Homo sapiens: one gene and its partners. The protein of the gene in region 5 interacts with the protein of the main gene of each other region in a biochemical or structural test. Each region holds a gene or a part of one and is shown on either strand. Other genes may lie near its edges. The genes, in order: ELMO1, TSHZ2, ABI1, ALK, APBB1, CYFIP1 and CPSF7.

Region 1 (3,500 bases), on a different chromosome or scaffold from region 5:
GCCCACCACCACGCCTGGCTAATTTTTTGTATTTTTAGTAGAGATGGGGGTTTCACCATGTTAGCCGATCTCCTGACCTCGTGATCCACCCGCCTCGGCCTCCCAAAGTTCTGGGATTACAGGTGTGAGCCACTGTGCCCGGCCCTCCATGATTCTTTTAGGTTTTGATAACATAGGAGAATTTTAAGATCTCATTCTAAGTGATTCTAAGAAGTATTTATTGGATCGTTGATTCATGCACTGTAATGCCCCTTAGCTTCTTAAAAGTTACATAAGTATTTCTCTTATTTAGCCAAGATTTTTAAATGAATGAGCAGTACAAGGAGCTAGTGTGTATAATTAATTACTGCTAACTCCTCTTGCTTCTTCCTTATGTTACAGGCCTACTTTCGAGAAGCTGTACTGTGGCTGGCTTGGGTTGGCTCACTTGTGTCACCCAAAAGTACAGTAATGGAGCTGGGATAAATTGAAAGGCAGAGGGAATCATTATTACTCTTTTGGGGGATAAAGGAAATGAAAATTTAAATAGGCATGAATAACCTTCTCTAGCTATATGAAGATCTATAGTTTTCAAACTGGACGTAGAGACATGTGTCCATTAACTAATTTATACATTCAGTTATAAGGAGTTGGTCTCAAGCTCCCTGGAGGACGACAGTTATTACATTCACTTGGATCAGCCCTGATGCGTTGGTTATTAATACTCATTAAGTGGAAGTATTAGGTCATTTGAATATCTGGCTAAAACCAGTGACAAATAAAACAAAAGAAAGAAGTTAAGTTTCAGAAAACCATTAGCATCTACTTCAGACTTGTACATAGGACTGTAATGCATTGAGTGCCCCAGGTGTGTTACACAAAATGCTCATTATGTAACATGCTTTAGGATTGCTGAAATGATTAGTTTATTTATGTCAAGGAAGAGGTGAATTACTAGGAACATGAATTTTAAAGAATACTTTCATGAAAGTAAGGGATTCATTTCTTAGGAGAAAAATAATGAATGGAAATGGAATATGTATGTGGGATATAAATATGCCTGAATTAAAGCAAAGACAGCAAATTATTTTTACCACCATTGAGCAAGCCCACTGGCAGCAGAGAAGAGTTAATGATTTATAGAGAACTTTAAAACCCATTATGAGAAGGTATACTTCATATCAGAAAACACTGAGTGTAGGCTGGGTACCGTGGCTCATGCCTGTAATCCCAGCACTTTGGGAGGCCGAGGCGGGTGGATTACTTGAGGTCAGGAGTTCGATATCAGCCTGGCCAATCTGGTGAAATGCCATCTCTACTAAAAATAGAAAAATTAGCTTGGCGTGGTGGTGCATGCCTGTAATCCCAGCTACTTAAGAGGCTGAGGCAGGAGAATTGCTTGAACTGGAGAGGTGGAGGTTGCAGTGAACTGAGATCATACCATTGCACTCCAGCCTGGGCAACAGAGCAAGATTCCGTCTCAAAAAATAAAAAATAAAAAAGAAGAAAACACTGAGAGTTCTGATTGAATATTTCAAGAAAGGAAATATTGTAAAAAGGATATTTATGGAAGTAGGCAACTAATTCAGGGGGTAAATTTCCATTTGATGGAAAACTTGAACATAAAATAAACTGCAGAAGATTATGTTTCAGTAACCCAGCAATGAGTTAGACCACTGGGCCAGTGTTATTTGTATATACTCTGTATCAAAACGGAGACATGTCAGATGTATCACAGGGATATAAAATAGGCAGCTGGAAATATGAATCACCAGTGATTATGGATTCTTAGAAAAGAGTGATAATTGGGAAGAGAGGAGTAGGAAGACAATGAGATTGATAATCCCCCTTTTTAATTTTTGGCTTTTTTGGAATATCCAAATGGTGGCATCCTTTTGGATGCCAAGAATAGGCCCGCAGTGTACTTCATAGTAAATGCCTTTTTATCTGTCCATACTAGACTGTAAGGTCCTTGAAGTTTGTTATTTTCATCTTTGTATTTCCAGCTCTGTGGGACAGGGCAAGCCTGTTACATAGTACACACGCAATGCATGTTACTGAAATGGATCACTTAATGATGAGTAAATATTGGCTGAATGAAAAGAGTGGATAAAGATGGAGGCGGAGGGTGCTTGACAATATCAGCAACAGCTTCTCAGGCAGAAGCCTCCATGCATCCTTAAGGCACATCCAAATTTAATAAATAGAGACAAGCAGGGGAGCCGGGAATGAGGAGAAAATTAGTTGCAAGAAAATCTGAAGTATTGTCAATGAATTTCTTTATGAGTTCTTCAGTTTCCTAATACCAGTGCCAAGAATTATGCCGAGAGCGTGAAAAATGGTTTGGTGGGGTGGGGGAGGAGTCAGATAATTTATCCTCTGTTTAGAAGATGTCTAAGTTAAGTATTAAACCCTGAACACAGTGTGACAATAATTGGATTTTTGTCAGAGAAAGATGGACCTAGGGAAAGAAGGGTGGCCTTAGCATGGTAGATTTGGTGGATTGGAGCAGACTGCGAGGAATAAGTCAAGGGCTTGCCAAGGATAGTAAACATGTCGGAGAAGGTTATTAGCCATGAGAAGAGCTGAAGCAGTCTTTTGAGAACCTGAAAATTTCCATACTCTTCCTGAAGTTTGTATTTTAAAATAATAGCTTTTCGGAATGTAAAATCATAATGTCACTGCACTTCTTCACATTATTTCCCACCCCTGAGATCCAGATGTAGCTGGGGTAGGCAGAGTGTTGGTATCTGCGTCTCCCACCCCTCCTTTCACCTGGAAATCAGCGGACTAGGGACAATTCCGATGGTACCTGGGAACTGCCATGGTGTGCTGTGCATTTATCATGTGCAAAGATGGAGAGGAGATGAGGCAAGTGGTCTCTGGGGCAGCAAAAAAGGGAGAAATTAGTGTTGACAGGGGGGAAGCAGCAAGAGTTTACTTGTCGTGGAACCAAGTTATTTAGCTTTTAAGAACAGTCATTATGCTGATATAATAATGGCTTTTTATTGTGAGCTGTCAACAGACAGTAATAACTTTTAATGAGGCCTCTAAAATAAAACCTTTATGGTACCCATGTGTTTGGATTACTGCGATCCATTATTCTAACCTCTATTTTATTTTCCGCTCACATTGTGATTTATTATGTTTGGGGATTTAGTGATTAATTCCTTAGAGAATCTATTTTGGAGCTTAAAGTAGTATTTTAACTTTTAGTACTGCTCACTTAAATGATTTCCTGTTTGCTAAATTTGGGAGAGATGAAAAGAACTTGTTTTAACCATCAGAAATTGGAAGAAAGGGGTAACGAGTTTTTCGTTTAAGAGAGTGGCCGGTGACTGAGAAGTTGCCAGTTGAATTGTGTTGACAAGTGAGATTTGTGCGAGTCCCTTAAGAATGCAACAAGAACATAATAAGCATATAAAAGCCATGGATTGTGTGGATGAAGGAGTAGCCTGGGAATGCAAGAGGAATGGCAATTAACATATGTTGACATTACCATCCCAGAGAAACACAGGTAT
Region 2 (3,500 bases), on a different chromosome or scaffold from region 5:
TGAGGGTTCTTCCTTGGGTCCTTCCTGGCAACTCGCTATGACTATTCTAGATAAACGATCATAATAAATTAAATGCATGGACTTTGGAAGCAGGAAGAGCTGAGTTTAAAACTCAGCTTGGCTACCGCACGAACTTGAATGAGTTATCCTGCAACTTACTCAGATTCTCATCAGTAAAACAGGGATTATACTTGAAAGTTATAAGGAACAGGACTTAGCCCAGATGTCCCCTCCTCTGAGAGGTCTCCCCTGACCATCTACATCTCTGTTGTCCCAACTCCTGCTCTCATAATTTTGCTTTTATAAAGCTATTGCCATCATGAAGCTTTTTTTCTATACTGAAATTATCTTTTCCTTTATAAATTTCTTTGTATATTCTCTAGCTTCCCCCAATTGGAGGGCAAGATCCCCAGGGATCATCCCCATCCTATTCACCTCCAGGTCCAGGTAGTAGAACAGCATCTGACACATAGTAGGAACTCAAGAAATAACTGCCGTGTAAACGAATAAATGTAAACATATAAAGCACGTGGTATGTAAAAAGCACTTGTTTAGTGGCAGATATCATTGTTACCATTGTTACCGTTGTTGGTGGTGCTATAAATTCTATTTCTTGGGAAAGAAACTCTTTTTTGAGCGGGTGCTGGACTCCAAACAGCCCAGAATGAGTCTGCCTCAGGAGAAGAGGCTAAAACACTGCTTAGCCATTGTGTTTCCAGGCTTACAAATCAAAATCCATCCATATCTGGTTTCTTTCAAGCCCTGGACCCCTTGTTCTGTGATAACTGGTAAGTTGCTTGTTTCCCAGTTAATATAAATTTTCCATAGTCTGGTTATTCAGGGTAAAGACACACTATTCCCTCGTATCCCTGTGGTGCCTAACAGTTTCAGCACACTTTCTCAGCCCTCCTCTGACACAATCCTTTCCACACACCTGGAACATATGATTGCCCCCATTTTATAGATTAGAAAGTGGAGGGCAGAGATTTGAGCAGCCTGCCCAAGTTTACGCGGCCGAATAAGAATTAGACCTAGAGACTTGAACTTCAATCAGTCTGACTCCAAAAACTCACATTCTTACCCGGAGAGTAAGGTTTATCTCTAGAGCTTGCCCGGGGCTAAATAACTAGCGTGGGGCAAGGCTGCAACCAGAACCCAAGTCACTTGCCCTTACTCCGCTGTTCCATCCACAGTCTCAAATCTAATCCCAAGGGGGAAAACAAGAAGAAGCACTCAGCAGTGTACCCAACTTTCTAATAAAGGAAAATAGCCAAAGGCAATTCTGATATAAAACGCATTTATGGCTTTTCATTTTGGCATTTCTTCTGTACCAAATGGCACCGTGCACATAGAATAGATTTGACTCTTCTCTACAGCATCATCTTGGCCCAGAAGCTATTCATATCTCTCTGGGGTATAAAAGAGAGGCTCCTAAATACATAAAAAAAATTCCAAGGATCTGATAAATTGAAGTGATTTAAAGTAAGCCCTGTGCAGTTTATATAGAGATATTTATATGCCACTGCTCTCACTTACACAAGCCATTTTTCCCCTATAGAAGACCTTGACCCTCTGTCTCATTTTTGTATCTCCCATGTCACAAGGTTTCATGGGTTTTTCATGATCCAGTAAAGCATTACGGAAGTTTCTTTCAAATTCATTACAAATAGAATGGCTGCTGCCAACTCTGTTTTTATCTCATTCTGCCCTTCGTAACTATTTTCATTAAAAGCAATAACTGTATTCTACCCACCTTAATATCTAAACTATATAATTTCCATAGAAATGGCTTAGATGTGGCTTTAAGAAGAAAGCTCAGGGGTGATTTTAGAGTATTCCTTCAGTTCTGAAAGCACTCAAGTAATTAAGACCAGTGATCTTAATTTTTATACTAACAGAAACTGCAGAATGCTGGCCTTTTTTTTTTTTTCTTCAAACCCACCTTAGTGTCTAGCAGTGTTGTGGAAACATGAGGCCTTTCCTTAATCATAAATGGACACTACAGCTTTTCAATTAAATTAGTCTTTGGAGAGAGATGCAAAAGAGCTAAAAAGCTCCTTAAAAAAATCTTCCCTGCTTCACCGCTTCTCATTTGCCAAGAAGAGATGTTTAGCTAAAACGCAATGCTGTTGTCTTCTTATCCTGCCGCAACAAAGTTCTCTTGATCTTGAACCCTGAGCTAGCTATCTTACGAAGATCCTTGAGGTTTTTCTTTTGGTTTGCATGCCCACATTTGGTTTTCTGAAACAATTTTTTAAAAAGTGTTGTGTAATATAGTGTCTTACATCTGTGTGTCCAGAGAGAGTTTCATTAGTCCCTGCTTCAGGCTGGGGTAGCAGGTAGGAGGATATTGAAATTGTTTTTTAAATGACACAGGTAGAAAGAGAGCTCTCATTTAGATGAGCAGAATTCAAGACAAATGCTTTCAAATATGATCCAGGTATTTCTTCCCCCCATGTAATTTCTCTAAGCTCATTATCTCTAAAACTTTTGCATTGTGCGTTTTCCTGTTGTTATGCATAGCTAAATAATACTGATATATTAATAATCGGATTATCTTGCTGTGCCTCCTGAATTTTAATTTCTAAAATTGTAAATAATTTTAGCATGACTTTAGCATCCCAGAATATTTGAGGGTGCCCAGAGGATGTCTTTTTCTACAGGGGAAACGTAAAAAATTGAGGGAGGCAACAACTGAAAATTCCAAATGGCCATTTTAATGACTTTCAAATGCCTCCAAATTATTGAATCATTTCATTCATGGAGTTTGCTTTGGAAACAAATATATCAGCAATTCCCACTCGCATCTCAGATTTCTCTTCTGTGTCTCTGTGTATGTATATAATGTCTTTGAACGGACCTCAGTCTGATACCCTTGGACAAAATAATTTCTCGGACAAAATGAGCAATATGGATACGGCCACACTGCTGGAGACGCTCCCCATTCATGTGCAAGTTAAAGTTGAAACTATGTGTTTGCAGAGGTGCTTTCTCATTAGTTTGCAGACCTAGACTAGCAGTGAACCGTTGGGCTCTGAAGTCTCTAATTTTTATTACAATGTCTTAAAATCTGATGTATCTTGAAATCCACTTTAAATGCTATCTCTAAACGTTCTTCTCAGAAAAAGTTCCCAAAACAAGTGAATGAAAGGTCAGTAGGAGGAAAAAAAAAAGAAATTATAAATCCAGTGAAAATAGTGTTACATGTTAGAGGCATGTAAATAGATGGTGTTTTTTTCTTACTGTAATATTCAGGTAAGCAAGCAAGTACTCTCCACTTTCTTATGTGGTTAGAATGACTAACTTCCTCCTATAATCGAAGAGCTGCTTGCCAAAGATCACCCTAAGGAATGTGAGAATTTCTAACTTTAAATAGAACTTGTAAAACTTAAAAAAAAAATTAAAAATACCAATTGTTACAAATTACTGAAAAATGAATGTAAAAACCTATTCTGGGGTAAGCAGACTCTATAAAGATAGAAGGATAAGCTCTCCCTGAT
Region 3 (3,500 bases), on a different chromosome or scaffold from region 5:
TGGGCCAGAGAGTAATAGGAAAAGCATGAAAGAAAGGTCTATCAGAGAAGCCAAAGGATTAACTTCTCAAAAAAAGTAGGAAAAACCAACCATGCAAAATGATGCAGAGAAAAAAAGCACATGAGAACTAAAATGGGAAAGAATTTTGCAACATGGAGGTTATTAGCATTCAGAGAGCAGTGGAAATAGAACAGGTTAAAGAGTGAATGAAAAGTGGGAGATGGAGGAAAATGCTTGGTTTTTTGTTTTTATTTTAAAAGACAGGGTTTCACTGTTGCCCAGGCTGGAGTGCAGTGGCGCAACCATAGCTCACTGCAGCCTCAAACTCCTGGGCTCAAGTGATCCTCCCACCTCAGTCTGCCAAGTAGCTGGGACTACAGACTAAGCTAATTTTTTTTTTTTTTTTTTTTTTTTTTGAGACAGGGTCTTGCTTTGTTACCCAAGCTGATCTCAAACTCCTGGGCTCAAGCAATCCTCCCACCTCAACCTCCCAAGTAACTGGGATTACAGACTTGAGCCACTGCAGCTAGCTGACAATAGTGTAATAAAACTAGTTAATCCATAAAGGAGAGATAGGTCAGTTACTAGATGAGTATATGAAGTCAAAAGAGTTTTCAAGTACGACAGAGATCTGAAATGTTTCAATTGTGAAAGCACAAATTCAGTAAAGAGAGGAGGTATAAACTTATCAGGAGCATAAGGTTTACAAAAAGGCAGGACAGGATATGACCCACAGTTAGGACTTTAGCTAGGAGGAAGAATGTCTCTCTTCCATTATAAAAAGGAGTAGAATAGGGTGAGCGAGGATAGCAGGTTTGGAGATGCAGTGGTAAGAAATTATAGGTCTTATATGATGAAGTCTATTTTCTCTATGAACCAAAAGACAAGAAAGGAAAGGGTCAGATTTCAAAAAGGGAGAAAAAAATTAAAATAGTTTGTGGTAAGTGGAAGAACAAACTGGCGAGGTTATCTAGTGGGATTGCCTAACTATGTTGAGGGCGCACTTTTGAGTAATAATCAATTTTAAAATGACACCCATGAGCTGAGCATGGTGGGAGGGGCTTGGGGGGAAAGTCTGTAGACCCAGCTACTCAGGAGGCTGAGATGGGAGGATCGCTTGACCCCAGAATTACGAGGACAGCTGGGGAACATAGGAGACCCCAACCCTCATAAAAATTAAAAATAAAATGGCACCCATGTACTCTTTTCTCTATATTGCCTTATTAAAATAAGAATCTGGGCCGAGCACGGTGGCTCACGCCTGTAATCCCAACATTTTGGGAGGCCGAGATGGGTGGATCACCTGAGGTTGGGAGTTCGAGACCAGCCTGACCAACATGGAGAAACCCTGTCTCTACTAAAAATACAAAATTAGCCAGGCGTGGTGGCGCATCCCTGTAATCCCAGCTACTCAGGATGCCGAGGCAGGAGAATTGATTGAACCCAGGAGGCAGAAGTTGAGGTGAGCAGAGATTGTGCCATTATACTCTAGCCTGGGCAACAAGAACGAAACTCTGTCTCAAAAAAATAAAATAAAATAAGCATCTGTTGTTACAACTCTTAAGTTGCTAATATTTGACGTAGTAGGAAACATCTTTTTCTATATGATATAATATATACATTTCTGATGTTTAAGTGGAGGGCATTAATTTCCCATGGGTTCTGAAAAAGTGCCACACTTGCCTTTCCATAGAAGGAAAAATAAAATGTACCAAATACAATTTTGTCAAAGAATGTAGAAATTATTAATAAAAATTAATGATAAAGCATTCAGGAAATGAGTGAATTAAAGGTAAATTGAAGTTTTTCAAAAATGTGTTTTTGCTGGTCGGGCATGGTGGCTCACGCCTGTAATCCCAACACTTCGGGAGGCCAAGGCAGGAGGATCACTTGAGTCCAGGAGTTCAGGACAAACCTGGGCAACACGGCAAAATCCCATCTCTACAAAAATTACAAAAAATTAGCTGGGTGTGGTCCCTCATTAACAGATTTTCTTCATAAACACGGGTTCACTACCAACTATGTCTGAGAAAGTTTTATTTTGTAGATGGAGAAAATTAGTAGATCCAAAGTTAAAAGTACTTATTTGGATTGACACACAGTAGTCAAATCTCAAGTCTCCATTCTAAGGGATGGATATTTACTGTTAAAATGACCACGTCAACTATTTCCTTTAAAAACAAAATCGATGGCGTGAACCCGGGAGGCGGAGCTTGCAGTGAGCCGAGATCACACCACTGCACTCCGGCCTGGGTGACAGAGCGAGACTCCATCTCAAAAAAAAAAAAAAAAAAAATCCAGTAATTGCTACTTTCCTATTGTCTTATTTCTCAACAATGCCCTTTTTTTTTTTTAAAAAAAATCCCTTTTTTCTAACATGATGTCTTAGTAAATATTAAGATCTACAAAGTTTGTAGTTCTGGGGTTTGACTATTATTTCTTCTACAATCAAACCATAATTTCAATAAATATTACAATCAACACAAGATGATATTAGGAAAAATATACAACCTCCCAATCAAAACTTTGTAAATGCTTCAAAATTAGCATTAACTATCAATTTTACCTTACTTTTTTTTTTTTTTTTTTTTGAGACGGAGTCTCGCTCTGTCACCCAGGCTGCCAGGCTGGAGTTCAGTGGCACAATCTCAGCTCACTGCAAGCTCCGCCTCCGGGTTCACGCCATTCAGCCGCCTCAGCCTCCCAGGTAGCTGGGACTACAGATGCCCGCCACCACACCCAGCTAACTTTGTTTCTGTATTTTTAGTAGAGACGGGGTTTCACCATGTTAGCCAGGATGGTCTCGATCTTCTGACCTCATGATCCGCCCGCCTCATCCTCCCAAAGTGCTGGGATTACAGGTGTGAGCCACCACGCCCAGCCTTTACCTTACTTTTCATGCCAACACTATTTTCATGGGTTTTATAGATTTATATCTGCACAATATCCTAGAGTTTGATCCAACCTCTTGTCCCAATATGAACACTCTTCCTTTCTGGCTAACATATTTTTGACTGTTAACTGTCTTAATTCTTAGGACATAATTTCACTGAATATAAATAAGGTTACTGTAAATGGTCACACAGCAGATCCCCAGTTGCCTAAATATCTCCTTTCCACAAGGACTATTAGCATTCCTGAGCTATCAGAATCAACTGGAGAACGCAGAAGCACACAAGAAAAATTTGCAAGTATCCTAAGAGATTATTTCAATAATTTTCTAAGAAAACTCTCCAAAAGACAGAAGCATGCTAAAATTGAGGTTCTAAACAGACCAGGACTAGTCAGAAGTACTACATATAAAGCTGTTATTAGTATTAAAGCCACAAAAGAAAAAAGAGAAGACATTAGTTTTAATACAAATTTGCAAATATTATATAGTCCTAAAAATATGCAGTATTCTCACCTTGAGAGTATTAGCAAGAACTGATATATGTGATATGGACTTTCATAAGAACTGATATGCTGGGTTCACAGACTTGGTGTGAAAGAAGAAAAAA
Region 4 (3,500 bases), on a different chromosome or scaffold from region 5:
GAGATAGAGACACACCACTCCTCACTCCTGCCATCTCCTGCCCCCGAAGTCCTTGAACTTGCCAAGTGCTGGGCTCCCAGACTCCCTTTGCAAAGTCCCTCTCCTTTGCATGCATACAACTTTCTCTCCTTAAGCCTCAGGAAGGTCCAGTGGGAGAACCAGGGCTGTGCCTCTTCCCAAAGTGTGATGCCACGTGTCCCCCACTGACAGCAGTGCTGCTGAGAATCTCAGGGCATGAGGGCCAAAGGCTCTGCCTTCCTAGGTGGTGGTGGGAAAGCCAGTGAATCTGATGCCTGTACCATGGCAGAGATGCCTGGATGCCTGGCAGTGTTGGCTCTAAGGACACAACCTCATCTTGATAGTTTACAGCTTCCCAGAGGGGACCACTGGATAAGCAGTAAGTTGGAGAGGGCACTGAATCAAGAGTCACAAGGCCTGAGTTCTAGTCCCAGCTCTTCCACTTCCTGTGTGGCCATGGCAAGTCCCGTAATCTCTCTGGGCCACCGTTTTCTCATCCATAGAATTGGGGAGAGACCTGCATTGTCTGTTCATAGGGTGGTGTTGAGAAATGTGAAAGGTCTGAGGAGGATGCCAGCTGATGAGGGCTCTTATGAGACAGACAGGTGTAGTCTTTATCTCCCTGCTCCCTGCCCAGTCCTCCTGCCAGGTATGCTCAGGTGCACACAAATTCCTCTTCTCAAGGGGTAAGACAGTATTCTTCTTAGATACTGAGATGCGTCACCCAGTGGCTAAGGTGAAGGTATTTTACATGGATCCTGACTGAAGGTGGAGATCAGAATAGCTATGACCTTGCAGGGCTTCCATCACCACTTTGAGTCCCTTTGAGCAGTGTGGTCAGGTTGGGCTTTCTGGAACCACTGGCTGTCAGTCTTCCCTCCTTTCCTGGGAGCGGGAGGGTGGCCGCTGCTTTTACTGTGCAAGTCTTCCTTGTGATCCCCATAGTACAGTGGTTCGTTGAGGAAGCCTGGATCCTAACCTTGGGGCCTGCTCAGCTCCAGTTCCTGGTATCCGGGGCCTGCTGAAGACCTGCAGACCCAAGCATGGGCAGCTGGGCTCTGGGTCTGCCCAGGGTGCTATGTTTAATAATTTAGAACCACCTTTGAGATGTTCTAGTCCAATCCTCAGATCTCACCTGTGAGGATACCCAGGTTAAAGGTTTAAGACTGCCCTAAACTACACGGGTGTCTAATGGCCAAGTTGGAGCTGGAGCTTGGGATTCCTGGGTCCACCCTGGGTATCTTCACTTCCCAAGCTCTGTTAACCATAAGATGTGTGTAGCACCTTCCTAAATATACGGTTGGAATGTCCAGGTATTATTATCCCTACTTGAGACGTGAGGACTGTGGGCTCTGAATGAGTAGCTGCAGAGTGACCTGCCCAGGTCAGTTGCTTGAGTAGTTACATGGCTGTCATGAAAGTTCTCCTCTGTGTTTGTCTCTAGTTTGGTTTTCCAGAGTCAGCAGGCCATGAGAATGGATCCAGGCTATAGAATGTGGATATGGTTTGGATTTGTGTCCCTGCCCAAATCTTACGTTGAATTGTAATCCCTAGTGTTGGAGGAGGGGCCTGGTGGGAGGTGATTGGACCATGGGTGGATTTCCCCCTTGCTATTCTCATGATAGTGAGTGAGTTCTCATGAGACCTGGTTGTTTAAAAGTGTACAGCGCTTCCCCCTTCATTCTGCTCCTGCCATGTAAGACGTGCCTCCTTCCCCTTCACCTTCTGCAATGATTGTAAGTTTCCTGAGGCCTCCCCAACCATGCTTCCTGTACAGCCTGCAGAACTATGAGCCACTTAAATCTCTTTTCTTTGTAAATTACTCAGAGTCAGGTAGTTCTTATATAAATGCAAGAATGGACTAATACAAATGCATTGCAGGAGCCTTGCACAAGCTCCTTGGGGCTGGGGCTCAGCCATCATCTACCTCTATCTTCTGTCCATTCTCTTCCAGCCAGTCAGTCACCCCCCTGTCCAAGCCTAAAGTTGACACCCTGGGTTCCATCGAGGAACTTGCTACCCAGGCTGCCCACTCTTGCTCCTTCCATCCTTGCTCCTGTCCTTGGCACAACAACTGCAGCAAAGACTGGTTCTCACTCACCGGGCGAGGGCGGGTCTCTCGGAGGAAGGACTTGAGGTCTCCCCCCGCCATGAGCTCCAGCAGGATGAACCGGGGCAGGGATTGCAGGCTCACCCCAATGCAGCGAACAATGTTCTGGTGGTTGAATTTGCTGCAGAGCAGAGAGGGATGTAACCAAAATTAACTGAGCTGAGTCTGGGCAAATCTTAAACTGGGAGGAACAGGATACAAAGTTACATTTTCAGCAGCTACAATGTATAAAGGCATTCTGTAAACATGGGCAGCAGGGGTCCCGGGCTGAGCCTAAACCCAGAATCTTGCTGGTGAGCAGGTGGGAAGAACCACAGCAGGCTCCACAGGAGTTCCATTTGCAGGAGAGTGGCTGGAGCTGTGAGGATGTTGCTCAGGCACTTGGGTGAGGAAGTGTCTCAGGGGGCAGGAGAGTGTCTTTCTCAGATACTGGTGCGTGGACTGGGTGCTAGAATTCATGGTCGATTTCTCCCAGGAAGGCCTCAGGCAGAAGGTGAAGCAAAACAACTGCTTCCAAGAGAGACTGGGTGAGACTTGCCAAGTGACAGCGTGTGAAACAGAGCCAGCAAAAGGGGATGGCCTCACGAGTCTATCAGTTTCCCGTGGATTCCTCATGGGAGGGACCAAGACTTGGGTTTTCTTGTTAACATGATCCCTTTAGGACACACAGGGCAGTAGGGCCTAGGAATTCCACATGGGCCAACATGCATGTGTGTGCATACACACATGTACACACAGCCCCCCAAGTGTTGAAAGACTGGGTGATTAGACACCAACATAATAATGGTTAGTTACCACCAAGTAGTGAGATTTGAGTGATATGGGTCTTCTTCAATATAATCTCATACTTGCCAAGTTTTATTCATAATCAGGAATTATATGTATCATCAGAAAATAAATGTTATTTTGTGTGTCCTCCTGTGGTTCCAGACCTCACAGCCATATCACTCACACTGCCTGGCCTTGTTACCCCTGCCACTTCCACCAAGGGGACATCCCAGTCTGCCCCCACCTGTCAGGACGTTCAGAGTCTTCCCAGTGTGACAGGGGGCCATGAGCCCCCACCTGATCTTGAGGTCAAATATCTGCCCCCTCCTTGAGGGGATCTGCTGTCACAGCGGACGCCCTCAGGAGCCATAGGCACTGAGACTCTCAGCTTAAATCCAGATCTTGGAGCCTCAAGTCAAAAGGTGCAGCCAGCTGAGACTCAGCCCTGCTGATGGGAGCCTAGGATGGGGTGGCCTCCCATCATATTAGAAGCACAATTACTGGGATTGGTGAAGGGTCTTGGAGGGAGATTATATCTTGTACTGTCAAAGTCTAGCATGCTCCATTTCTTAAGAAAAAGTGAGGGAAGAAGAACCAGTGGATA
Region 5 (3,500 bases):
CCAAGGTGGCTGCACACCTGACGAGAGTTATTCAGGCAGGGTGCTTCACCATCCTCAGCTTCCAAATGACGTGGGCCCACAGACACCCAAAGAGGAGGGGCTCTTGCCCATCCACCTTCTAGGCAGCCATCACCGCCTCTCCTCACCCCCACTTCCCCCTAACTCACACTCTATGGAATAAGGTTTTCAATAGGCACCTGAAACTTAGCTGAGGCTCAGGGAATACCTGCTGTTCCCTAGAGACCCTCCATTGCCTCAGGACTCTCCTGCTAAAACCTTCCAGGAACAGCACCCTAGGGCCTCCATGCCCTCCACAGCCACAGCCTGCTTCATGAGGGCTGGCTGGACACTTCTGGAATCTGGGGACCAGTTCACCATCTCCTGACTGAGTCACACACACCAATCCATCTGCCATCCCTGTCAGCCTGTACCTTCCTGCTTCAAAGAGCTTCATCCTTCCGATCTGTCCTGGAAGGGCAGTTTCTCCCCCCTTGGCCATCTGGGAGGCCCTTCTGGAGCTTGGCACATCTCCCTCCAAGCGCAGCCCACCCCGGCCTTTGCTTTCACACACATGCATTTATTCCAGAACGCACACCTTCACTCCTGCATCGATTCATGCGACACTTACATATAAAATACATTAAATGTTCACGTATCATTCCTTCCTTCCTTCATTCGTTCATCCACAAATGCCTTAGTGGTGAAGCCAGGTGTACTCACTTGCTCAGGAATCAGTGATTGACTTAAAGCTTTCCCCTTCTCTCCACCCCACATAACTAACATAGCCCAGGCTACTAGCTTTTTTTTTTTTAACCTGCATCATTGCAAAAACATCATAACTGGTCTTTCTCTTCCTATCTGGTCTCCTCCAATCTCAGCTGCACAGTACAGCCCAAATGATTCTTCTGAGATGCTAAACTAATCAAGTAATTTTCCAACGGAATCCTCTTAATTGTTTTGTCACTGCCCTCAGGATAAAGTCCAAATTCCTCCCCAGGTTTTATGTGCTGTCATGAACCCCTGTCTGCCTCTCAGCCTTACCTCCAGCCACTCCCCTTCTCTCTCTTTGCTTGGGACATGCCCCCTTGTCCTCTCCCAGCCCACCTCCCTTACTCTCGATTTTCACCTGGCTATCACCTACCTCTCCTTCAGACATCAGTATACAGGTCCCTTCTTAAAACTGACCCATTGCCCTCTCCCCCACCACTCTCACAGGCAGGGTCAGGGGCCCCTCCTGTACTTCCCCAGCCCCAGAGAGCTCATCGCACTGATCATAACCACTTGTTTCTTTCTTTGTCTCCTCACCAGGCTGTGAAGGCCAGGAGGTAAGAACATCTTTGCCCCATAGTATACATTTCCAGCATTTACGATAAGGCCTGGAGCAGAGTATGAATTCAATACAGGTAGTAAAGTTTATTCATTCATCATTCATTTAATTCATGAATTCATGCATTTATGCATTCAATCCATAGCTCTATGAATATCCTACAATAGGAAGGAGAATATAATTTTTGCTCAATTCTAGCCTCATTTCTGCAGGAGCACAAACCTTCTCTGCAGCCCTCATGGTCATAGCAACACAGTTGTAAAAGAGTGACTTGGCCCCTTTCCTGGGCTGGCCCCCACCTCTATCCTCAATTCACAATGTCTCCACCAGTGCATGATCCTTGAGAATCCTCTTGCCACTCCAACATCCTTGCTGAGGTCACTGCCCAGCAAACCCGCCCCAGCTCTTCAGCAGTACTATCCCCCTACTCCTAGAAGCTTCATAGGTAGTTCAGAGTTGCAGCCCCCACAGTGACCATCCCAGGGGCAAGTGAGCAACTAGGCCTCTATTTGGTCACTGACTCACACCCCCTAGTCTTGCAAACTTCCAACCTACAACCTGCAGACTGATGCAAGCCTCAGATAGATTGTGTGTGGCCTGCACAGTGCTTTTTAAAAAATAGAATTTGTTGTTAACGTTTAGAAATTGGGCTATTTTACACCAATATCTAGTTTTCAGTTTCCCTTTAACTGGCTGCATTGAGACTATATTTTTCCTCACCCCAATCCCAAAAATAATCAGCTGGAGTGCAGGAGGGGCTGTTCCTTTTAAAAGGAGTTGAGACAATGACCACCAAAGGCCACTAACATCACAAAAAAGAGAGGCAATCAGACTTTGCCTTTAGTAGAAGTATTTTTTTTTTTTTTTTTGAGACGGAGTCTCGCTCTGTCGCCCGGGCCGGACTGCGGACTGCAGTGGCGCAATCTCGGCTCACTGCAAGCTCCGCTTCCCGGGTTCACGCCATTCTCCTGCCTCAGCCTCCCGAGTAGCTGGGACTACAGGCGCCCGCCACCGCGCCCGGCTAATTTTTTGTATTTTTAGTAGAGACGGGGTTTCACCTTGTTAGCCAGTATGGTCTCGATCTCCTGACCTCATGATCCACCCGCCTCGGCCTCCCAAAGTGCTGGGATTACAGGCGTGAGCCACCGCGCCCGGCCTAGTAGAAGTATTTAATACCACCTATGAAATATTCTTGCAAAAGCAAAACACAAAAATGCTCAAATCTGAATCTGATCAAGGCTCTAGAACTAACTACCAATTTACAGGAAATCCAGGGGAAGAGGAGCATGGTAAATATGACCACAGGAGAGAGTCTGAAAAATCCAAACCATAGAAAACTCAGGACAAGCAACATGATTCTCCAGTTAAAAAACAAAAGCAAAACTGCAAACAACAACAACGAAAAAAATAGAAGGGGAACTTGATCAAACATAACTTTAACAGATAGATCAGGCCAGACATGGTTGCTCACACCTGTAAGCCTAGTGCTTTGGGAAGCCAAGGTAGGAGGATTGTTTGAGAACAGGAGTTCAAGACCAGCCTGGGCAACATGGTGAGACACTGTCTCTACATTTTTTTTTTCCTTCTTTTTTTTTTTTTTGAGAAGGAGTCTCGCTCTTATTGCCCAGGCTGGAGTACAATGGCTCTATCTCAGCTCACCACAACCTCTGTCTCCCGGGTTCAAGTGATTCTCCTGCCTCAACCTCCCGAGTAGCTGGGATTACAGGCGTTTGTAACCACGCCCAGCTAATTTTGTATTTTTAGTAGAGACAAGGTTTCACCATGTTGGCCAGGCTGATCTCGAACTCCTGACCTCACGTGATCCACCTGCCTCGGCCTCCCAAAGTGCTGGGATTACAGGCATAAGCCACCATGCCCAGCCAATGTTTGTGTTTTTTGTAGAGACAGGGTTTCACCATGTTAACCAGGCTGTTTCTGAACTCCTGGCCTCAAGCAATCCACCCACCTTAGCCTTTCAAAATGCTGGGATTACAGGCGTGAGCCACTGTGCCCAGGCTCAATCCAGCCTTTTTTTGGCAGGATATTTAATGATATTAAAGAATTATTATTAAATTTTTGTAGGTACAATAATGATATTGTGGTGGGTTTTTTTTTTAAGAGTTTTATCTTTCAGAAATGCAAAAGTAAACTGTTGTTGTTGTTGTTGAGAAAG
Region 6 (3,500 bases), on a different chromosome or scaffold from region 5:
TGAATGGATATTTCTCAAAAGAAGGTGTACAAGTGGCCAACAGGTGTATGAAAAAATGCTCAACATCGCTAATCATCAGGGAATCCAAATCAAAACCACAATGAGCTATCACCTCACACCTGTCAGACTGGCTCTTGTCAAAAAGGCAAAAGATAACAAGTGTTGTCCAGGGTGTGGAGAAAGGGAAACCCTTGTACACTGTTGGTGGAGATGTAAATCAGTATAGCCATTGTAGAAAACAGTGCCGGGGGTTCCTCAAAATATTAAAAATAGAACTACCATATGACCCAGCAACACCACTGTTGGGTATATATCTAAAAGAAATGAAATCCGTATGTCCAAGAGATCGCTGTACCCCATGTTTATTGCAGCACCTTTCACAACAGCCAAGACATGGAATCAACCTAACTGTCCATCAACAGATGAGCAAGGCCGGGCCTGGTGGCTCACATCTGTAATCCTAGCACTTTCAGGAGGAAAGGAGGATTGCTCCAGCCCAGAAGTTCAAGACCAGCCTGGGCAACATAGTGATACCCCATCTCCATTTAAAAAATAATTAAAATTAAAAAAACAAAAACAGGCCGGACACGATGGCTCATGCCTATAATCCCAGTACTGGGAGGCCGAGGCAGATGAATCACTTGAGGCCAGGAGTTCGAGACCAGCCTGGCCAACACGGTGAAACCCCTTCCTCTACTAAAAATGCAAAAAAATTAGTCAGGCTTGGTGGCACCTCCTGTAATCCCAGGTACTTGGGAAGCTGAGGCATGAGAATCACTGGAACCCAGGAGGCGGAGGTTGCAGTAAGCTGAGATCACACCACTGCACTCCAGCCTGGGTGACAGAGTGAGACCCTGTCTCAAAACAAACAAACAAAAACTGGATTATGGTGATGGTTGTTGCACAGCTCCAGAAATCTTCTAAAAATTATTGTATAGTTGTCCCTGAAACAACACGTGTTTGAACCATGCGGGTCCACTTATTTGCAGACTTTTTCCAGTAAAAGTTACACGGTGTATGCCTGCCTCTCTAGCCCCTCCTTCCACCTCCCTCCACTTCTGCCTTTGCCACCCCCAAGACAGCAAAACCAACCCATCCACTTCCTCCTCCTTGGCCTGCTCACTGTGAGCTTTTTGAGGATGGAGACCTTTCTGATGATCCACTTCCACGTGATGAGTAGTCAGTTTATTTCCTCTTCCTCATGATTTTCTTAACAACATTTTCTTTTCTCTAGCTTACTTTATTATGAGAACACAGTATGTAATACATATAACTTACAAAATCTCTGTTAATCAACTGTTTATGTTATCAGTAAGGTTTCTGGTCAATAGCAGGCTATTCGTAGTTTTAACTTTTGGGAAGTCACGTAGTTTTAACTTTTGAGAAGTCAAAAGTTATACTTGTCCAGCCTGGCCAACATGGTGAAATCCCATCTCTACTAAAAATATAAAATTAGCCAGGCATGGTGGCGGGTGCCTGTAATCTCAGCTACTCAGGAGGCCGAGGCAGGAGAATCGCTTGAACCCGGGAGGCAGAGCTTGCAGTGAGCCGAGACAGAGCGAGACTCCGTCTCAAAAAAAAAAAAAAAAAAAAAAAAGGTTAAAGGCCAGGCTCGGTGGCTAACGCCTGTAATCCCAGCACTCTGGGAGGCAGAGGCAGAGGCGGGCAGATCACCTGAGGTCAGGAGGTCGAGATCAGCCTGACCAACACAGTGAAACCCCCTCTCTACTAAAAATACAAAATTAGTGGGAGTGGTGGCGCATGCCTGTAATCCAAGCTACTTGGGAGGCTGAGGCAGGAGAATGGCTTAAACCCAGGAGGCAGAGGTTGCAGTGTGCCAAGATCGTGCCATTGCACTCTATCCTGGGCAATAAGAGCGAAACTCCATCTCAAAAAAAGTTACACTCGGATTTTCAACTGCACAGGGGGTTGGAATCCCTAACCCCCTCGTTCACAGGCCAGCCAAACGTATACTTAAAAGTAGGTGAATTTTATAAAGTAGGTATATTATACCTCAATAAACAAAATTTTTGTTTAAAATTTTTGTTTTTAAAGCATGCTAATATTTTTAAATTGGAATTGGGTTAAATTTATAGATCAATATGAAGAGAACTGATGTCTTTACTATGTTGAGTGTTCCAACCACTGACCATGGTATGTTCCCCCATTTACTTAAATGATCTTTGATTTCTCTCATCTTCAGCATACAGATCCTGTAAGTCTTATTCAATGTATACCTAAGTATTTGATTCCTTTGAAGCAAACGAAATGTTGTGTTTTTAAATTTAATTTTCTTTTTTTTTTTTTGAGACGGAGTCTCGCTCTGTTGCCCAGGCTGGACTGCAGTGGCGCGATCTCGGCTCACCACAACCTCCGCCTCCCGGGTTCAGGCGATTCTCCTGCTTCAGCCTCCTGAGTAGCTGGGACTACAGGCGCACGCCACCATGCCCAACTAATTTTTGTATTTTTAGTAGAGACAGGGTTTCACTATGTTGGCCAGGCTGGTCTCGAACTCCTGCCCTTGTGATCCGCCCGCCTCGGCCTCCCAAAGTGCTGGGATTACAGGCGTGAGCAACCACGCCCAGCCAAATTTAACTTTCTAATTGTACATTGCTAGTACAGTAGTCCCCACTTACCTGTAGTTTCATTATCTGCAATTTCTGTTTCCCCAGTTATAGCTGCCTACAGTCAACTGCCCTCCAAAAATAGGTGAGTGCATACAAAAAGATATTTTGAAAGAGAGAACACATTTATATAACTTTTATTCAGTATATAATTATTCTATATTATGAACAGTTATTGTTGGTAATCTCTTACTGCGCCTAATTTGTAAATTAAGCTTTATCATAGGCATAGATGTATAGGGAAAAAAACCACAGTACACGGAGGGTTCTGTCTTATCTCAGGTTTCAGGCTTCCATTGGAACGTATCGTCCATGGATAACAAGGACTGTTGTAAACAGAAATAAGGTCAGCTTGTATAGTGTTGACTTTGCATGTATCTCCCCATGGATAAGGGGCACTGCTGTATGCAGAAATAAGGTCGCCAGGCCGGGCCCGGTGGCTCACGCCTATAATCCTAGCACTTTGGGAGGCCGAGGCAGGCGGATCACCTGAGGTTGGGAGTTCCAGACCAGCCTGACCAACACGGAGAAACCCCATCTCTACTAAAAACACAAAATTAGCCAGACATGGTGGCACATGCCTGTAATCCCAGCTACTCGGGAGGCTGAGGCAGGAGAATCGCTTGAACCCGGGAGGCAGAGGTTGCGGTGGGCCGAGATCGCACCATTGCACTCTAGCCTGGGCAACAAGAATGAAACTCTGTCTCAAAAAAAAAAAAGAAAAATAAGGTCGCCTTCTGTGTGTTGACTTTGTATCTTGTGACCTTGCTAACCTCATTAATTAGTTCTAGTAGCTTTTTCATAGATTCCCTGGATTTTCTATGTAGATAATCATGTTGTCAGCAAATAGGGACAATTTTCCCTTTCCAATTTGTA
Region 7 (3,500 bases), about 55 Mb from region 5:
AGCAGAATCACTAGAATCTCGGGAATGGGCCCGTGGAGGTATTCCTATGAAGCAAAACAGAACTGATGTTACTGCCCAGGCTTTACACAAACCCACAGGACCAGTTCATCCTTCAGAAGTTATCAGACACCCTACAAAGGAAGGTGACTAAAGAGGCTGAGAAGGTAAAATCATCTACTGCCTTTTTTTTGGCTTCAGAGGTCAGAAGCAACTCAGTGAAGACATTAAATCCAAAAAACAATATCGTCCTAAATCCTGTCAAAGAATGTTTTCCATCCATAACTCCAGAAGTGCTTCAGAACAGATTTAATTTATCCTTATATGTATCTTCTATTTTTAAATGTAGAAGGATCCTGATAGCCCACGAGAAAATGACAGTGTTCACTGATGTTCAGGTGAATTGCAGTTGACTTGAAACCCCACATCTCCTGAAGAGTTCAGGACCTCTCTCCTTAAACTAATACTAGTTAACCTCTTCCTGTTGCACACTTAAAATGTTCTCTTTGCCACAGGGTGTTGGCTAGGGAATTTAAGGGAAGAGAGGGAGTGGCAGGAACTGGATGGCACTTCTATTTACATACTAAAACTAGTAATCAGGGTGAGAAAGAGACACACATGAAGACTAGACAACTGGAGGTTAAGTGAAAGATAAGAAAAATTGGGAGATACGCCAATAAAAGATCCGCCCACAGCACAAGCAGATAGCACACAGCTGACAGTAAGGATGCTTAGCAAAAGCTTGCTACAAAACATGTCTCCAATCTGGGGAACTCCCGCTACATTTCAATGGCCAAAATCCTCTACCCTTCAGGGCAGCCTAACAGGAACACCATCACCACATGCTAGTATGGTGCTGTGCACAACAGGAGCTCAGAACATGTTTTAAACAGCTGGAAGCATGGATTCTGACATTGTCAAGTCACTTGGTTAAACTTGTTCCTTCTCTCCAGTTTAACAGTCTAAGCCTGTTTATTGTGGAATCCAATAGAAGAACAAGATCACATGGCTTTGGGGGGGTCTTGGAGATAGAAAGATGCCACTGGCAGCAAGTGTGGAGGAAAGAGTGCTCCTTAAACTAGAATATGATAGTTAATCCCAGCTCCTGAGTAAAGCCTAAGGTGGAATCAATTATGTTGACAACCACCTAGATTTCTCTTACAGAACAGTGCCAGTGCTGTCTTGTTCTTCAGGTCTCAAACACATGGCAACTGGCTCTTTCCTAGAGTTCTCTCAAACTGAAGAACAAAAAGGTATAAGGCAAGTGTCATCTGACAGTTAACCACTTTCCCAGCTACTACTGTTGTCACATCTGCAAAGGTTGTTTTGTATCTATGGCTACAAGTCCCAAAAGACGCAACATTTCTATGCAGAGGAAGTCCACCAGCTTTACTTAGTGAATTAACAGAGCCCAGGTCCATCAGCATGACAGAGCAGAAAAACAGCACTCAGTTACACAATCTTTTCAGCAAAAAAAAGTAACATGAAAAGTAGCTGAGTAGAAGTAGAACGTTACCCCCAATACAGTTGTAAAATTACATACCTAAGGAAAGTCAGGGGTGAATTACAGAAAGACTCCAAAACAGAGGGGACTTGAAAATACAACTTGTCAAGGAAGAAGAGTGTGTCCTTTCTAACATGGAACAACAAGAGTTCACACCAAATCTATCTAGGCTGTCAATCTAGTTAAAAGAACAGCTGTTCCTATGCAAGAGCAAAGTGGTCCTATTTCTACCTGGAGGATACACCCAATCAATACAAGGCACTATTTTGAGAGCTGGACCTAAGCAGTGACAGAACATCAGTGATGAAACTTTGCTGTTCCTCCCACTGTAGCAAAAGAAAATAAGGGTGGTTGGCTGTCTCAGGGAAGGTCTTGCAGGGTGGCTGCACTTTATGAGGTCAGGAAAATCCAAGGTCTAGTCCTCAGGTTTCTCAGGTTCAGAAACTTGCTTCAACTGGGGTGACTAGGCCCTAGGAGACTGATTCATGCTAACCAAACTCACAAGAGACTGATTCATAAACCATAACACCAATTTATTAATTTACAATGAGAAATGTAATTGCCAAGCAGACCAGAATACTTGTGTCGGCTGGTCAGCGAATTCTCTTCCTAGTAGGAGACCCTAATTGGGAAACCAAATTAGCATCAGAAAGTGGCTTAGTGAGTACAGTCAGAATAAAGAGAGTAAGATGGACATTGGGGAAACTGTCCTCAAACTAAGGTAGTTCTGAGGTAACTTTCTTTTTTCTTTTTTTTTTTTGAGACAGAGTCTCACTCTGTCACCCAGGCTGGAAGGCAGTGGTGCAATCTCAGGTCACTGCAACCTCCACCTCCTGGATTCAAGAGATTCACCTGCCTCAGACTCCCGAGTAGCTGAGATTATAAGCATGTGCCACCATAACTGGTTAAGTTTTGTATTTTTAGTAAAGACAGGGTTTTGCCATGTTGCCCAGGCTGGTCTCGAACTCCTGACCTCAGGTATCTGCCCGCCTCAGCCTTCCAAAGCACTGGGATTACAGGTGTGAGCCACCATGCCCAGCCCCTAACTTTTTTATTTTCCCTCCAAGATGGAGTCTTGCTCTGTTGCCCAGGCTGGAGTGCAGTGGTCTGATCTCAGCTCACAGCAACCTCCGTCTCCCGGGGTCAAGCAATTCTCCTGCCTCAGTCTCCCGTGTAGCTGGGATTACAGGCATGTGTCACCCACACCCGGCTAATTTTTGTATTCTTAGTAGAGATGGGGTTTCACCATGTTGGCCAGGCTGGTCTCAAACTCTTGACCTCGTGATCCACCCACCTCGGCCTCTCAAAGTGCTGGGATTATAGGCGTGAGCCACCGCGCCCGGCCTGTAACTTTCTTTACTAATGGGATATAACTGCCAAGCAGACTAAAACATTTGGTAATCAAAAGAGCACCCTCTCCCCTGGACAATGCTGGAGAAATATTGTTCAAGTCTTATTCTCCAACACTCCTCTTGGTTGATTCCTTACAGTATCCTTCCAATCAACGTTTATGAAAAGATTATAGGCACCTTTTAGTTACATTTTAGGGTGGCTGCTTCTTGATAATTTATAGAGAGGCATGTCTTAAAAATTAAGCCCATTCACCTAATGCCAAGTTTTAGACAGAAACACAGAATTTAGAGGTGATGGAACTTTAAACATCATGTCACTAGTCCAGATGGGGAAACAGGCCCTAAGTAGTAAAGTGACTTGGCCAAGGTCACACGAGTCAGTGGCAGAACCAAACTACAACCTGAACCTACTTGACTCCCAGCACAATGCTCTTTCTTCTATATAGACCTATTCTGAGGACTACTTGTCGACCATGACACCACTCACAACCACCATCACCCTCCCCCAAACTCACCCACACTGTAGGCTAAGCCTACACCATAGAAAACAAACCCACAAACACCCCCCCCTCATACAGATGGTCTCCACGTACCCCCTCTTGGGACTCGGACACACTCACGTTTCCGAGCCTGTGCCTCAAACTGTG

The links.
Region 1: the proteins of APBB1 (region 5) and ELMO1 form a complex in vitro, tested with the Homo sapiens proteins (one study listed by BioGRID).
Region 2: the proteins of APBB1 (region 5) and TSHZ2 form a complex in vitro, tested with the Homo sapiens proteins (one study listed by BioGRID).
Region 3: the proteins of APBB1 (region 5) and ABI1 form a complex in vitro, tested with the Homo sapiens proteins (one study listed by BioGRID).
Region 4: of the proteins of APBB1 (region 5) and ALK, one has a biochemical effect on the other in vitro, tested with the Homo sapiens proteins (one study listed by BioGRID).
Region 6: the proteins of APBB1 (region 5) and CYFIP1 form a complex in vitro, tested with the Homo sapiens proteins (one study listed by BioGRID).
Region 7: the proteins of APBB1 (region 5) and CPSF7 form a complex in vitro, tested with the Homo sapiens proteins (one study listed by BioGRID).

What each region holds. Positions count from the first base shown.
Region 1 is NC_000007.14:37,225,365-37,228,864, reverse strand, and holds part of ELMO1 (engulfment and cell motility protein 1), read left to right. Parts: intron 1-3,500. UniProt on the Homo sapiens protein: Involved in cytoskeletal rearrangements required for phagocytosis of apoptotic cells and cell motility. Acts in association with DOCK1 and CRK. Was initially proposed to be required in complex with DOCK1 to activate Rac Rho small GTPases.
Region 2 is NC_000020.11:52,978,858-52,982,357, reverse strand, and holds part of TSHZ2 (teashirt homolog 2), read right to left. Parts: intron 1-3,500. UniProt on the Homo sapiens protein: Probable transcriptional regulator involved in developmental processes. May act as a transcriptional repressor.
Region 3 is NC_000010.11:26,850,959-26,854,458, forward strand, and holds part of ABI1 (abl interactor 1), read right to left. Parts: intron 1-3,500. UniProt on the Homo sapiens protein: May act in negative regulation of cell growth and transformation by interacting with nonreceptor tyrosine kinases ABL1 and/or ABL2. May play a role in regulation of EGF-induced Erk pathway activation. Involved in cytoskeletal reorganization and EGFR signaling.
Region 4 is NC_000002.12:29,218,587-29,222,086, forward strand, and holds part of ALK (ALK tyrosine kinase receptor isoform 1 precursor), read right to left. Parts: intron 2,250-3,500; coding exon 2,120-2,249; intron 1-2,119. UniProt on the Homo sapiens protein: Neuronal receptor tyrosine kinase that is essentially and transiently expressed in specific regions of the central and peripheral nervous systems and plays an important role in the genesis and differentiation of the nervous system.
Region 5 is NC_000011.10:6,405,595-6,409,094, forward strand, and holds part of APBB1 (amyloid beta precursor protein binding family B member 1), read right to left. Parts: intron 70-3,500; exon of another isoform or gene 1-69. UniProt on the Homo sapiens protein: Transcription coregulator that can have both coactivator and corepressor functions. Adapter protein that forms a transcriptionally active complex with the gamma-secretase-derived amyloid precursor protein (APP) intracellular domain.
Region 6 is NC_000015.10:22,973,869-22,977,368, forward strand, and holds part of CYFIP1 (cytoplasmic FMR1-interacting protein 1), read right to left. Parts: intron 1-3,500. UniProt on the Homo sapiens protein: Component of the CYFIP1-EIF4E-FMR1 complex which binds to the mRNA cap and mediates translational repression. In the CYFIP1-EIF4E-FMR1 complex this subunit is an adapter between EIF4E and FMR1.
Region 7 is NC_000011.10:61,416,476-61,419,975, forward strand, and holds part of CPSF7 (cleavage and polyadenylation specificity factor subunit 7), read right to left. Parts: coding exon 3,474-3,500; coding exon of another isoform or gene 3,447-3,473; intron 45-3,446; coding exon 1-44.